Homo sapiens: one gene and its partner. The protein of the gene in region 2 interacts with the protein of the main gene of each other region in a pairwise test. Each region holds a gene or a part of one and is shown on either strand. Other genes may lie near its edges.

Region 1 (8,370 bases), on a different chromosome or scaffold from region 2:
AGTTCACCCTTCTCCAGGGGAGAAGCTGGGCCTCGCACCAGCCCCTGGAGCCTCAAATGTGCTCCCTCACAGCCACTGGGGCTGCTCACCAACCATCACAGTAGGCCCTGAACTGGGCCAAGGTCAGAGTTACTCTCCCTCACCCACACTCCCCAAACTCACACATGCTAAGCAACAAGGGGAAATGTGACAGGAGAATGAGCTCTACTCTTTACATGCGGGTGTAGCCTCTGGCACCTTCGTGGCCTGGAAGTCTAACACAGTCCAGTGAAATGTAGAAATAGCTACAAAGCTAAAGTGACCTTTGGCTGCAGTGAACACACGAGACTTGGACTAAGCCGAGGCAGGTAGCAGGTCTGAGCCATGTATCTAACAAGGGAGACTGACAAACTGGACTCTGTTCAGAGAAGAGGAGAAAGGACAAACAAAATATTGGAACCGTGAAAGCACTAAAATAATTGTAAGAAATAATTGCAGGAGCTGGGGATATTTAGCCCAGAAAGGAGAAACTTTAGAATGATTAACTTTCTTCAGAGAGTTGATAGACTCCTGAGTAGAAAGGAAAACTAGGTAATGCTGGCCAGGCGCGGTGGCTCACGCCTGTAATCCCAGCACTTTGGGAGGCCGAGGCAGGTGGATCGCCTAAAGTCAGGAGTTTGAGACCAGCCTGACCAACATGGTGAAACCCCTTCTCTACTAAAAAATACAAAAAATTAGCTGGGCGTGGGAGCGGTGGCTGCAATCCCAGCTGCTCAGGAGGCTGAGGCACAAGAATCACTTGAACCCAGGAGACAGAGGTTGCAGTGAGCCAAGATTGTGCCACTGCACTCCAGCCTGAGCAACAGAGTGGGACTCTGTCTCAAAAAAAAAAAAAAAAGAAAAAAGAAAAAGAAAAAGAACACTAGGTAATGATACTAGCCCACACCTGAGTACTTTTATATGCCAAGCACCATGCCAATTGTTTTACACACTTTCTCATTTACTCTAAACAGCAGTTCTGTGATATAACTGCAATTATTATCCCCATTCCACAGTTGAGGAAAACACAGAAAGGTTGAATGACTTATCCAAGGTCACGTAGTAAGTGGAGTCAGGACGTAAATCCAGGCAGTCTGCCTCATGTGCCTGAGACTTGCCTGCCATCCATAGACATTTCCCATGTGGGGCCCTCAGCAGACTTCATTGAAAGTTAAAGGCAGGCAGGACTGACAGCAGCACAAGGAAGAATTTTACTGGAAGTATTCCACAAGGGATATTGTGTGGATACTTTGGGTGGTAGTGAGCTGCAGAACAGTAGACAGATTCAAGCAGAGGATGCAAGAGGTATTACCCTGAACAGTTCGCAAGGAGCATTACAGCAACAATAGCACCAGGGAACTTGTTAGGAATACAACTTCTTGGACCACCCCCACCCCTGCCCTGAGTCCCTGAATTAGAAACTCTGCAGCTGGGCCCAGCCATCCGAATTGTTCAAAGATGCCCTGCTGGTGATGTTAATACACGCTCAAGTTTGGGAAACACTGGCATGCAAGTGTCTGCACACTTCCAGGGACTGGAAGACTGCTGCAGTCTCTTCTGCTTCCAAAACCCCATAATTCTACAGAAGTAAGATGGAAATACAATTCAATGTCCACTCAGTTTTTCTTTGTCTTAATGTCGAGCACTTACTATTAGTATCTTGAAAACAATCTATCAGTTGCTAAATTGTGTAACTGGACTCATACACCTTAGACATTGAAAGGCCCACAGGATACATATTTGGGAGGCTGTGGATGACCAGGAGGCAGCCTATATTTCAGCCACCTCATTGCTTCACTGACTTCCAAACCAGCCCCATATGTCCCTGCTCCTTGCTGGTTCATACTGTTCCTCTACCCCTGCCTTTTGAAATCCTGCCTTCTTTCAAAGCTCAATTTAAATGTCACATTGTCCACACAGAGTGCCTAACACTGTCTGCGCCCACAGGGCAGTCTCCTTTTCTTCCTCCCAACCTCCCCTGCTTCCTGGGTTCTCTCTCACTTCTGGGGTACTTAGAGCTCTTGGTGCATTCTGCTTCTGCTTCATCTCACGGGAATGCAGGCCTCTCTCAGCAGTGTGCTCGCCTTGACAGCAGGCCCCATTCAGTCATCGTCAACCCCGCAGGGCCTGGCACACAATAACCTTGTGAGAAGCGACCAAAAGCAACATTTGCAGAAAACTGTGCATGCAACCGTTTGCAGGATGGACAGACACTACATGGCTGGTGAAAAGGAAGCGCGCTGCGATTCACTTTTGAGCCCTGAGGTCTTTGCAGAACTTTGAGGTTTTTTGCAATAACCAGTATGAATACATGTGTGTCAGCTAGTACTTAAGTGGCCCCAACCTCACTCACCCACAACTCTGGTTGCCTTTAACTTCTCTTCATGTTGCTAATAATCACTGTTTTACAGCTCCTGGATGATAAGGAATGCTGAGTGCTCTCAGAGCCAACCTTTGAAAGGTTCTCATAGACCCAAGGAGGGAGAAGTCTCCATTTTAGAGAGCAGAGAGGTCATCTGTTTGAACACTATCATAGAGACAGCAAATAAGGATACTGGGAGAGCAGAGACCAGGCCCAGTTTAGCAGTTTATGCCAGTGGGACCCAGTATCCTGTGGGCTGTGGTGGACTGGTCCTGTGACCAGGATGATGGTGAGACACTCCTCTTCCCAACATGGGTTCCCAACCCCCAGGCTCCCAGAATGGACTCATTCTGCAGTGAAAGCTAACACTTTGATGGAGTGAAGAAGTATTTCTTTTCTTTTTTCTTTTTTTTTTTTTTTTAGAGACACAGTCTCACTCTGGCATCCAGGCTGGAGTGCAGTGGCGCAATCACGGTTCACTGCAAGCTCCGCCTCCCGGGGGGTCACACCATTCTCCTGCCTCAGCCTCCCCAGTAGCTGGGACTACAGGCACCCACCACCAGGCCCAACTAATTTTTGTATTTTTAGTAGAGACAGGTTTCACTGTGTTAGCCAGGATGGTCTCAATCTCCTGACCTCGTGATCCACCTGCCTCGGCCTCCCAAAGTGCTGGGATTACAGGTGTGAGCCACTGCGCCTGGCTTGGAGTGAAGAAATATTTCTAATATCTGTCTCATTTGACGATGGCTTCAGTGGAGCCATCTGGGAGTTCTCAAACCCCAGAGCACCCTACTGTTTTTAGGACCACAGAGTACTACAATAACAGGAATAAGAAGGAAAAGAGAGTCTCTAGACTAGTTATGAAAAATTTTCCCCCACCCTCCCTCCACCCTTGAATTCCTGGGTAGCCTGGCACTGGGTGGCAATCATGACAGGTGTTCCTCCAGAACCGTGGGGCTTCCTGGTGTGCTGTGCCCTTTGGCACAGGGCCTGGCCCAGCCTTGCAGGACTTAGAGCCCAATGCTTCTAATTCTCAGACTAATGTTCCTGCCATCTAAGGGCACAACCCTAGAATTTAGGAACAATTGTAATCTCCCAAGCCATCACTGACCAAGGAAGAACAGAACAGAATAGAAATGGATGGGAAGCTGGGAGTGGTGGTTCAGGCCTGTAATCCCAGCACTTTGGGAGGCCAAGGCCAGAGGATTGTTTGAGCCCAGGAGTTCAAGAGCAGGCGGGGCAGCATAGGGAGACCTCATCCATACAAATCATTTTTAAAATTATCAACCGAGCGTGGTGGCTCACGCCTGTAATCCCAGCACTTTGGGAGGCCAAGGCAGGCAGATCACTTGAGGTCAGGAGTTTGAGACCAGCCTGGCCAACATGATGAAACTGTCTCTACTAAAAATACAAGAATTAGTCCAGCATGGTGGCAGGCTCTCGTAATCCCAGCTACTCAGAAGGTTGAGGCAGGAGCATCACTTGAGCCCAGGAGGCAGAGGTTACAGTGAGCTGAGATCACGCCACTGTACTCCAGCCTGTGTGACACAGCGAAACTCCATCTCTAAATAAATAAATAAATAAATAAATAAATAAATAAATAAATAATAAATAAATAAAAAGTTATCCAGGTGTGGTGGCGTACACCTGTGGTCCTAGCTGCTTGAGGGGCTGAGGTGGGAAGATCACTCGACCCCAGGAGGTCAAGGTTGCAGTGAGCCATGATTGCCCCACTGCACTCCAGCCTTGGTGACAGAGCAAGACCCTGTCTCAAAAAAAAAAAAAAAAAAAGGAAAGAAAGAAAAAAGAAAAAGAAAAAAAATGGGTGGGTGGGAAGATAAGGTCAGTCATTCATCCTCCCCCCACCACATCAGGACCATTTTGGTGCCCCCACTCGTTGCCTCCCCTGCTCACCACCACCCTCACCCAAGCCTTCTTGACAGCTCCCTGACCTTCTTCCCTTTCAGCCTGGAGCAGCTGTGTTCTCTGTCCTACTTCTAACCAAAACCTACTCTCAGGAGAAGACTTGGTACCTTTCTTTATACTTGAGAGGACATTCTGTCCTTTTATCTTCTAGTTATTCTATCATCAGTCCTTTCCTTATTATGAATTAGCAAATACAAAATCTTTGTTCCCCAGGGTAAAGAAAAGAATTTTAAGAAGTGGTTTTTCTTAGCCCCCTCAGCACCCTAGTCTATTTCTAACACCAAAAAGACAAAACAAGGGAGAGGAAAGGAGAAGGAGATGGAGGACCAGTTGCAGGAGAGAAAGGAGAAAAAAATCCACAGTGGGGGTGGCGGAAGATCTATGACTTCTAACAACCCATTCTGTGGTTTTCAAAGAGCGAATATAATAACAGCTATGAAAGTGTGAGCAATGACGAAACTGGAGAGATAGGGTTTTAACAAGATGCAAGGACAATCTGAGGACTGAGAGCCATTTCAACGTGAGCCCCCAGTCTGAGAACAAGAAAGAAGAACTTCTGTCTCGAGGTAAAAAGGCCTGCTGGGGACCTGGGGTCCAGGTGAAGGGATGGGATGGTTGACAGAACTGCTCAGGTGAGGACAGGCTTCTCATGAGGTCCCTGAGAAACTTGCCTTTTGGAGGGAAATGTCCTCTGCCCTCTGGAGCCTGGGGAGAAGGTTATTTCTGCCCGCCAGACCAGCATGCTCGCTTTTCTTCCATGGGCATTCAGGAATCCTGGCCCCATTCTGACATTCCTCAAATGGAGGAATTCCTCAAATTACCAGAGGAAAGTTACCAAAGTTTAGATCTGCTGGAGCTCTTCAAGGATTGGCCTGAGACAAGCCGGGAGGTGCCACGGGGCTTGGAGCTGGCCCTGTGAGGCACCTCCGGGGGAAGTTCATGTCCTAGGTGGTTCACGTCATGGACCTCTTGGAGGTCCGTGAATAGATTTATTCATGGGATTTGTGAATTGGGGGGAAAAATACATCTTTATTTTCACTAATCTTTAATTGAAAGTCAGCACTTGCTTCAGTTATGAATGTAGACAATGAACCACAATAGAATTTGCCATCAATAGAAAACACAAATATTTTCAAATCTCATTACAGTTTTTATAGATTTCTCCAAATGTCCTTAACGCTCAGCACTACTACAGAATTACAACAGTTATTAGGCTGATGTCAAATCTAAAGAAGCATGTGTACTGCTCTACCACACATTCTTCTAATGTTTTGACAACTGTCTTGTCATAATTTGTTCCCTTTATTATCCCATGTATCTTATTAATTTTTAAATGTTGTTCTGAGAAGGGACTCCATATGCCTTCCCAGACCACCAAAGAGGTCCATGGCGCCTTTATGTCAGGCACCTGCTTTGGTGTGTTGAGCAGGAAGCCTGAGATCTCAGACAAGAGCTTCAAGGGCCCCCCAGCCCAAACCTCTGTCTACTAACAAGTCTGGTTCTACTTTAAGGCAGTTGGGGTTGTGGAGATTGAAAAAGAAGCCCCTTCACAGCTGCAAATGAGATCTTTCTGGGCATCTTTTTCAGTGTCGTGGGAGATCTGTATACAGAGGTATTTGTGGAGCTCAGAGCTGACCTTCCAGCTCCTCTGAGAGGTTAGATCCGGGCTCCGGTGGCAGAGGAAATGGAGACTCTTCCTTGCCCTCTTGTCCCCACCCTCCCCAGAAAACCTCTGGCAAAGCTTTATGTGTCATCTAACCGTCACCACATTCCTATGAGGTAGTTTTAAACACAAGAGGAATGTGAGGCTGAGTGAGGTCCAGCAATGTGCTGGTCACACAAAGCTTGGATTTGAACCCAGGAGTCCACAAGACTCCAGGACCGCCTCCGAAGGTGCGGGAGGGAAGAGTTTCCCGCCGTCTGTGAGCTGTCGCCTGAGAGAGGCACCGAGCCCTGGGGCCACCAGCGCAGCTCAGGAGCCCCGGGGACCATCAAAGATGAGGATGCCAACTCCACGGGCACCCTCCCCCCTGCCCGCGCTGGGGCTCACAACGTTTTAAGAGGGGAGACCCGCCCCTGGCGTGTAGTGGGCCCGGAAAATTCCCAGACTTCTCACGACCACCCGCTCTCCCCTCTGTTGAGGGCCAGGTGCCGCTCTAGTACATGCTGCGTCCCCAGGACCCACCAGGCCCAACTTTGCACCCCCTCATCTCCCCTCCTAGTTTAGACTTTCCCTGGCTAGCCCCCATGCTCGCTGGATGGCCCATGGCTGGAGTGACGCGGGCCAACGCGGGGCAGGTAGGGGGTCACTCGGCTTTGGCTGAAAGGCAGCGCCCTCTAGCGGCCAGAGTGCGAAATCAGCGCCGCCGGCTCCGCGCTGCCCCGCCTGCATCACAACAGGGTGCTCCCCTCCCGGGCACCAAGGTCACTTCCCAGAGCATCCTTGCCCAGTGACCTCGCTGCCCCCCAGCGCTGGTGAGGGGCCCACAACAGACTTACATGCTCTTCTTCAACTCGGCCCTAGGCACCGCGAAGTCTGGCCACTCCAGCGGAGTGACCAGCTGCATCAGCCCCTCCCGCCTGTCCTCTCTCTCCTTGGAAGCGGTCCCTACCCTGCGCCCCTCCCATCCCGCTGCACCAGTCCCTTAGGAAACACGCCTAGAGAAGGGACACGACCTTGTCAACATTCCACAGCTACCTAGTGCGGAGCCAGGACTGGAAGCCAGATCTCCTCAGCCCATTCCCCACCTTAATTCACCCACCGTATTCTTTAGTCACCAGCTCCCGAGAGCCCACAAACAACTATGAAGGCCTAACTTCATTGCCATCTTGCAGCCTTTCCACATCCCTCATCCAGAATTTCTCCTGTGCTGCCCCTTGACACTTTATGACCTTATTACTTAGTACAGTCGTTCTTGTGTTAACAGCTGTTCGTGAATGGATGAGCGGCTGTGAGGAGAGGGACAAAGGGGACTCCAAGAGAAAGACTCTCATAACTTGGGTTAGAGTCCTGCTCCCCAACTTAGGAGCTGTGATTTTAAGCAAGTCACAAGTCCCCTCCAAGCCTCTATATGCTTCGTACAAATAATAAATTTTAGAAAATAATAATGGCTTAGTGTTTTATAAGGACTAAACACAGTCTTGCAGGTAGATGTGCCTGGAACACTGTCCATTGATTCCAATATAAGAAAGCATAAAACTAATCATAGCTATCATTTATTGAGCCCTTACTCTCTGCCAGGCACTGTGCTAAGTAATTTACATAGGTGACCTCATTTGACCCTCACAACCCAAGGAAGAGAATATTTTGTCACCATTTTATAGGTCATTAAGAGATTAAGAAACTTGCCCAATATTACACAGATAGTTAAGTTTCAAAGCCAGATCTGAAACATCCTGGTCTGACTCTAGAGACCATTTAACCACTAAAACGTCCGCCTCTGCTGTGTTAGTGATCTCTCTGTGCCCCATGGTGTCTGACACATTATAGATGCTCCGTGTTTCTGAAATATGTCTATTTATTAAAGGCTGAGCATAGCGCCTGGCCCAGGAGCCTAAGAAACTTGACCGAGTCATGCAACTATTAAGTTTTTTTTGTTTTTATTTTTGTTTTTTCGAGACAGAATCTTGCTCTGTCGCCCAGGCTGGAGTGCAGTAGCGCGATCTCAGCTCACTGCAAGCTCCGCCTCTCGGGCTCACGCCATTCTCCTGCCTCAGCCTCCCGAGTAGCTGGGACTACAGGCGCCCGCCACCACGCCCGGCTAATTTTTTGTATTTTTTTTAGTAGAGATGGGGTTTCACCGTGTTAGCCAGGATGGTCTCGATCTCCTGACCTCGTGATCTGCCCACCTCGGCCTCCCAAAGTGCTGGGATTACAGGCGTGAGACACCGCGCCCGGCGCCACTATTAAGTTTTAGGACCAGGATTTGAACACAAACACTCTGGCTCTAGAGTCTACGCTTTTTAACCATAATTCTGGGCTGAATGAATAATTGCAATCCTTCTTTGTCTTCCTCTTTGAATAAAATGATTTGTCATTTTATTCATTTATCCTCTTTGTCACT
Region 2 (8,013 bases):
TAAATGTCCTCGTTAATTAAGAGTCTGGATTTTAAAGTAAAGGTTGACAATGATCAGGTGTATGCTTTCAGTAGTTCTCACTGGCTACAATATGGAGAAGGGACCAGAGGTAAGGCAAACCTTGGGGCGGACATCCAACTGGGAAGCTGATGTAGGAAATCAGGGCAAATAATAGCGACTAGGGAGCAGCAATAGAGAAGAGTGGCAATCACTGAGAGATGCAGCAGAAGCTCTTATCAGACAAGATGCAAAAGCTCATATCAGACAAGATGCATACAAATAATATGGAACACAAGATAACACATGTGTACCTTAAACATTTTAACTTAAAAACGCACATTTATTAACAATCTGCTGAAGTGAGTATTTTCTTTATGGGTCTACTGACGAATTCCACATGTTTTCTGCATTAATCACTTTCATCATCTATGGACTACTACTTCCAGACTGATGTTATCTGAAGTGAAGTGAGATCTTAAACACTTGAGAAACAGAGTTCAGAATCTTTCTAGAGTCAGACTATTTTACCAGCCTTTTACAGTTGCCTTGCTCTTCCTTAATTCCATGGCAGATAAATCTTGTAGTAAGTTATCTTTCAGTCTTTCCAAAGCATTCAATTTAGTTTTAAAGAAACAATTCATTTTAACACTCAGTTTCAGCTTTGTAATATTTAACTGTATGGCCATAAAAGTATAGTTAGCATAAACCAGTATGGGAACAACACAACTCAACTGATGACAGAAGCAAGAGTTCTAGAGTGCTAATGAGATGCCTACTGGCCATGGCAGGCTGTGGGTGACTGGTGTGAGGTCAGGATGCTTGGTATGGTGAGTGGAGAATGTTAACTCTGGTTAAATTGGCAACTCAATTACACGCAAGTGGGTTTTAACTACTTCCAACTGCTGTATATGTGGTACTAACATACTGGTCCTCACTGAAAAAAGAGTCAGGTTTTTTTCTTTTTAAAAGGCAAGGGTGCTAGGGAGAGAAGAAATTCAGTTTTAAATATGCTGTGATTGAGGAGGTCTGTGGAAGAGTTTGGTGAAGATGTAGTTGGAAAGCAAATGAATATAAGGTCTGGAGCTCAAAGGAGAGGTCTAAGATGCAGATAAAGATGTGGGAGCTGGCAGAGTGGGAGGGTGAGATGACTCAAATGAGGAAAGATAGCCTTATGTGGAAATCTGAGGAATCTGAAGATTTACGGGATATGCAGAGGGGAAGAAACCAGCAAAGGACAACTAGCAGCAGCAATCAAAGGGGTAGTAAACAAGAAAAAAGTATTTACACACACATGCACAAACACACAAGTAATCAAGAGTGCTAAATGCTACTTAAAGGTCAAGTAAGAACAACACTGAAACACCTACCTTAGACTGAGCTATAAGAAGGTTGCCAGTGACATTAGCAAGAAAAGTTCCAGGGTAGTCAGGGAGAGAAGCTCGATTACAATACTGTATATTGGGAAGTAAGGGGAGGGTAAGGCAGTGAAGGAGAGACAGCATAGGCAATAAGTGTGGCTGGGAAAGAATGGCCAGATAGGGCAGTAGTGGATGAGGTCAAAGAGAAGGGAATTTCAACATGGGAGAACTGAGCATGTTTAAATACTTAGGCAGAAACCAGTAAGATGGGTGGGTCTAAAGACATAGGTAGAAAAATGGCTCTCTAAAGATAGGATTCAGGGCTCAGGTTTGGGGCTAACTCTTCTCTAGAAATAGAAGGGAAGAGAGTGAAGAAGAGTATTTTGCTTGGGCAGTTTGTGTGGGTTTTGTGGAAGCTGAGGGAATTTCCTGCTGAGGGCCGAAACCATCAAAATGACTGATGACCTAAGTCAGAGGCTAAAGGGAATTCCCTTCTCACTCCAGTCAGGCCAGTAGAAGCAACCAGACAGGTTAATGGCAACAAGATTGCTACCAAAATCAACAGATACATTTCATAGTAATAGTAAATATCTTATCCTACAAAACATTTTCATTAAAAAGGGACAAACAACAGTTCAGCGGTTTCTTTAAAAACTAAGCATATATCTACCATATGACCCAGAAATAGAACTCTTGGGCAACTATCTCAGAGAAATGAAAACTTAACATTTGTACAAAAACCGGTACGTGAATGTTTATAACAATTTTATTCATAGTAGCCCCAAACTAGAAACATTCCAGATGTCCAATGGTTAAAACAAACTGTGGTACATCCATACCATGGAATATTAGCAATAAAAAGGAGCAAACTTGATATATGTAATGTCCTAGATGAATCTCCAGAGAATTATTCAAAGGAAAAAAAAAATCCAATCTCAAAAGGTTACATATTGCATGATTCCATTCATAGCCCATTCTTAGAATAATAAAAATAATAATGATGGCTAACAAATTAGTGGCAGCCAAGAGAAAGGGGAAAGGTGTGGCTACAAAGGGGTAGCACAGGGAAGCCTCTGCTGATGGCACAGTTCTGTGTCTTGATTGTGGTGGTAATTATAGAAAGCTATCCACATGGTAAAATTACATAGAATTACACACACATGCACATACAAATGTGGGACCTCCCTGTACTTTTTTTTTTTGCAATTCCTGTGAATCTATAATAATTTCAAAATAAAAAGTTAAAAAATAGTAATTCAAATCTATACTGGTATCCAAACCTTTAAGGGATTTCCTCTCCCTTCTACTGGCTATACAAAATGTATACATCCCCACAACTGCAAAGAATTTATATAAAAGAAAAAAAATAGTCTAATTGTAACATGAATGGTTACATTCTCTGATTTCCTGTAAGTTAGTGAAGCATGAAATAGCCCAGCATGTCCCAAACAACTTCCTTCAGACAGGTGTTAGGTAAGGCATTCCCAATCATTACACCACAGGATATAAAGTGACAACACCAAGATAAATCCCAGAGGGCCACTGTGTAAAGATACTTCCTTAGTCTCCTATAATCATACTTACAGGATGAGTTCTAACATGACTATAGTCTAATAAAATACTAAATATCTAACATTTCACTTGCCTTTTTCTTGCCTCTATGTTAAATCTTGTCCAAGTTTTAAAAGTTTCTCTCTGAGAAATTTACAAAATATACCTCGGTTGTATAAAAGTCAATTAACTGAGAGAAGATACCAGCCTAAAACTCTAATTAGGGTCTGGGAATAGCTGAACCACTCATTTTACAATTAGACTATTAGGCACACTCATGTGTGAAGGCTATATGGCAATAAAAGGTTATCTGTAGGACAGACATAGGCTGCTTGTCTACTTTCAGTAAAAAAAGACAGGATCCAGCTTGTCCAGAAGCAGTCAGTCTCAAGTCATTACAAGTCCTATTCCAAACGTATTAACAGGTGGCATTCCTACTGACCTTACTGACCTATTGCCTCAGAGCAATAGCAGGAAGCAGGTTCTGCCTGGACATCTTAAGAGAATCAAGGAGTACAATATTAAGTATGGACATCTGGCAGGGCACAGTGGCTCACACCTGTAATCCCAGCACTCTGGGAGGCCAAGGCGGGCAGATCACTTGAGGCCTTCTGGCCAACCTGGTTCAAGACCAGCCTGGCCAACATGGCAAAACCCCATCTCTACTAAAAATAGAAAAATTAGCTGGGCATGGTGGCGCATGCCTGTAATCCCAGCTACTTGGGTGGCTGAAGCATGAGAATTGCTTGAACCCAGGAGGCAGAGGTTCCAGTGAGCCAAGATGGCGCTACTACACTCCAGCCTGGGTGACAAAGCGAGACTATCTCAAAAAAAAAAAAAAAAAAAGTGTGGACATTTACTAGCTCCCATCTCAAGTTAAAGGCCAACAAATTGGCACTACAAGCTATAGTCAATATGAAATTCTGTCGGCCAGATGCGATGGCTCACATCTGTAATCCCAGCACTTTAGGAAGCCAAGGCGGGAGGATTGCTTGGACTCAGGAGTTTGAGACCAGCCTGGGCAACATGGTGAAACCCCATCTCTACCAAAAAAAAAAGAAAAAAAATTCTCTGCCTACCCATCTCTGAGGCTACTAACCTTTGTAAGCTCCCACAGCATTATGCAATTGCTAGCTCAAAGTGTACTTGAACTAGCAACACTCCAACACTGTTCTACGTATAGGAAGATACAAATGATGGAGTAATAAGCTCAATGTACAAGAAACAATAATAACAATATATTTTATACCACATTAACTGAGCATTCATTATATGTAGGTTAGAAAATCTCAAGAAAATGTTCGAAGGAGCCGGAGAAGGATGAGTGGAAAAGCAGGACTCAAACCAGGCAGAGACACAAACAGAACCTGGATAGACAGAGGACATTCTAATTCTAGGTGGAGGATGAAAAAGAACATATTCATAAGGGCAAGAATTTGCATAGTAAATCCAAAAATGATAATAAGGCAACTGACCTAACTGGATGGGGATGAAGAAAAAAATGGTTTAGGAGTTGGGTGTGGTTGTGTGATGATCATGCAAGGGAATATGGATGTTTAGATGAAGGCAGGAGGGAACACCTGTCTGGTTTAGTAGGTTAGAAAACAGGAGGAACAGAGGATTGGGTGGGGCCTAAAGGAATTCTACAGTTCCGAGTGTAGGAGGGAAAAGAGCAACTAACTTCTTATCAGCAAGCCACAGGAAGTGTTTTTAAAAAAAGAAAACTCCTACACCGGGCGCGGTGGCTCACGCCTGTAATCCCAGCACTCTGGGAGGCCGAGGTGGGCGGATCACGAGGTCAGGAGATCAAGACCATCCTGGCTAACATGGTGAAACCCCGTCTCTACTAAAAATACAAAAAAAATTAGCCGGGCGTGGTGGCGGGCGCCTGTAGTCCCAGCTACTCGGGAGGCTGAGGCAGGAGAATGGCGTAAACCCAGGAGGCAGAGCTTTCAGTGAGCCGAGATCGCACCACTGCACTCCAGCCTGGGCAACAGCGAGACTCTGTCTCAAAAAAAAAAAAAAAAAAGAAAGAAAAAACTCCTTAAAAAGCAGCAAGTAAACATACTCCAAACTGTTACTCATACCGTGACACCTGGTAGTGTGAGGGGTGGGAAAGTGGTTTTATTTTAATATTTTTAGTTGATTTTTTTTTTTTTGGTAAGCAGACACTTTCTTGTATTAAAAAGAAAAAAGTGTAAAAGTTGGCCGGGCGCGGTGGCTCACGCCTGTAATCCCAGCACTTTGGGAGGCCAAGGCGGGTGGATCACGAGGTCAGGAATTTGAGACCAGCCTGGCCAACATAATGAAACCCCGTCTCTATCAAAAATACAAAAATTAGCCGGGCATGGTGGTGCACGCCTGTAGTCCCAGCTACTCAGGAGGCTGAGGCAGGAGAATTGCTTGAACCTGGGAGGCAGAGGTTGCAATGAGCCGAGACTGCACCACTGCACTCCAGCTTGGGTGACAGAGCGAGGCTTCGTCTCAAAAAAAAAAAAAAAAAGTGTAAAAGCTGAAGGAACAATTTCGAGAAATGAGTGGTCACCAGCATTAAATGCCAAAGTGGTCAAAAATAGGAAGAGAGAAAAAATGTCACTGAATTAGCTAAGAAATTCATGGTAAACATAACCCATAAGTAAAAAGGCTCAATTATTATTTTTTGGTAAACAGTTTTGTTCTTAATAGCATGAAGTCATCATACTAAATATTGCTTACTGAATATTAAGCTAAGTACTTAACAACTGTATACCCAATGTAACTCCTTCTAATGACATAAAATTTTACCCAAATATAATTAAGAGAATTATCAAGCTTTTAATGTCAGGAGGGCCCTTAGCGGATATAGTCTCCCACTCCCACGTTTACAAAGATGGAATTAAGCTACTGACAGGTTAAGCCCCAAGTTAGCTCGGCACAGACAAGAACCCAAGTCTCTGACTCCCACTCTGTACTTCCTCTCTCCCCATGAAATACTGTTTGTTAAATTCCTTTTACGAGTATGTATGTTTGTGTAGGTCTTCCCTGTAAGACTGGCTTTTTGAAGTTAAACCCACAGTTCTGTATATTTCCTTTAATGTATTAAATCATACATTAAAAACAATTTGCTAACATCAACAGATTTGGGAAGTCTCAGTGACTAAAACATGATCTTACAGTTCTGGTGATTTAAACACTGGATAATTACTATCCTGCCTCTATCTCTCCATTTCAGTTTCACTACCCCTTCTTTTTTTTTTTTTTTTTTCTGAGATGGAGTCTCGCTCTGTTGCCAGGCTGGAGTGCAGTGGCACGATCTTGGCTCACTGCAATCTCCACCTCCTGCCTCAGCCTCCTGAGTAGCTGGGATTACAGGTGCACGCCACAATACCCAGCTAATTTTTGTATTTTTAGTAGAGACGGGGTTTCACCATGTTGGCCAGGATGGTCTCTATCTCCTGACCTTGTGATCCGCTCACCTCGGCCTCCCAAAGTGCTGGGATTACAGGCATGAGCCACCGCACCCGGCCTCAGTTTCACTACCTTTTCTGAAATTTCAAGTGTTCCTTAAAACGGTCACTATATTAAATACGAATTCTCCATTAATTTAACAGTCTACTACTTATATTTTATAAAAAGAACTTTTAAATGTTTGCCATTAATTATAAAGCTCCATCTACAAAATGATATGAATTATAAATTAATGAACTTTACTATTAAAAACTTTGTAGTTATAAGTAAAGTTCAAATTTAAAAATCCATTGGTCTGAAGAAACAGGCCAGGCCTCCCTTGCCTTAGGCAAATATTTACTCTTACAAAGGTTCAGATATAATTTGCTGACATTACGGGATCTTCCTCAAGGTAAAAATAGAACATTTCAATTTACTATACATCAGTTTTCATATTTAAATAATGAAAAGAGCATCAATATAAGAAATGCTTCCAAGTAATCTGTTTCTTGGTACTTATAGGGTAACATTATTTATAATGTAATATATTGAAAAATCACTGGCGATTTCTAAAACTGCTTGCCAGATGAGCGACTAGAATTCCAGTACTGTGCAGCTATCAGGATAGTCAACTGACAGCATGGATACAATGTGGAGCTTGTTGCACAGAAAATTCCACATATTTAGGTCACTGCACCAGCGTATCAGCAAGCAATTAGGTTACCAAACGTCAATTCTCCCCTTAAAACAAAAACTCCCTCAAAAACATTCACAAAATAAAACATGAACATGTGGACAAATCTAAGGATAGTATAAACTGAAAAACTGCATAAAGTTAGGACTCCAGTAACTCCTTACACTAAATTCTCAACTGAGTATTTCTTCTTAAGCTCTGGAAGGGTGGATGGTAGTTGGGGGATGCTTAGGGTTTTAACAAAACTTAGGTCATATCTAAATGGCAGACACAGCTATGTTAACTTCAAGAGATAGAGAAGTTACGTTCTTTTATCTCTAATCTCCTCTGTGTACAGGCTCCACTCTCTATCCCTTCAATATTCAATTCAGTTCTGTAATAGCAAACCCCATGGAGCCTCAGAGGTTTGAAAAAAAAAAAAAAACCTTAAGAGTGCAAAGAACCTCAGAGGTAATTCAATTCAACCTCCGAAGACTCTAATGTAAGAATTTCCTAAGTATATACACAATGTCTGGTTTTTAAGTTTTAGAGCAGGCTTTTCTCTTGTAGGATCTTTGAGATTCTGTTAAGATTTATGGGTCCAGAATAATATACTCAAACATATAAGTGTACAATATTTTGAATAAAATTTCACAGGGTTTGCAGGTCCCTTGTTAAAACACCTCCTCTTCTGATTACGGGTTTCTCCATTACAGTTGTTTCCTTACTGGAGCTCGCAATTCTGTTTAGTTTTTTAAAAAAATTAAACATTTAAAGTAAAACAACCAATCTATCTAAAGGAAGAATTTGAGTTAAGGCAAAGACCTTGCCTATAGCCCCAGGCTGGAAGACAACTTTTACCGACTTCATATGTAACCTTCTTGGGACTTGCTGGATAATTCCTGTAATATACTGTTACTGTGAAGAGATAAGACATTATCAAAACAAACAAAGGAACAAAAAGACAACCATCAAAGTGAAAGGCAGTAATGAAAAAGTACTTTT

Evidence for each region. Proteins that work in one complex are often made in the same cells at the same time.
Region 1: the proteins of CMTM6 (region 2) and CD160 interact in binary tests that used the Homo sapiens proteins (3 or more experiments, as listed by UniProt).

The regions. Positions count from the first base shown.
Region 1 is NC_000001.11:145,714,688-145,723,057, forward strand, and holds the start of CD160 (CD160 antigen precursor), read left to right. Parts: upstream 1-4,811; 5' UTR 4,812-4,872; intron 4,873-8,370.
Region 2 is NC_000003.12:32,492,463-32,500,475, forward strand, and holds part of CMTM6 (CKLF-like MARVEL transmembrane domain-containing protein 6), read right to left. Parts: intron 1-8,013. UniProt on the Homo sapiens protein: Master regulator of recycling and plasma membrane expression of PD-L1/CD274, an immune inhibitory ligand critical for immune tolerance to self and antitumor immunity.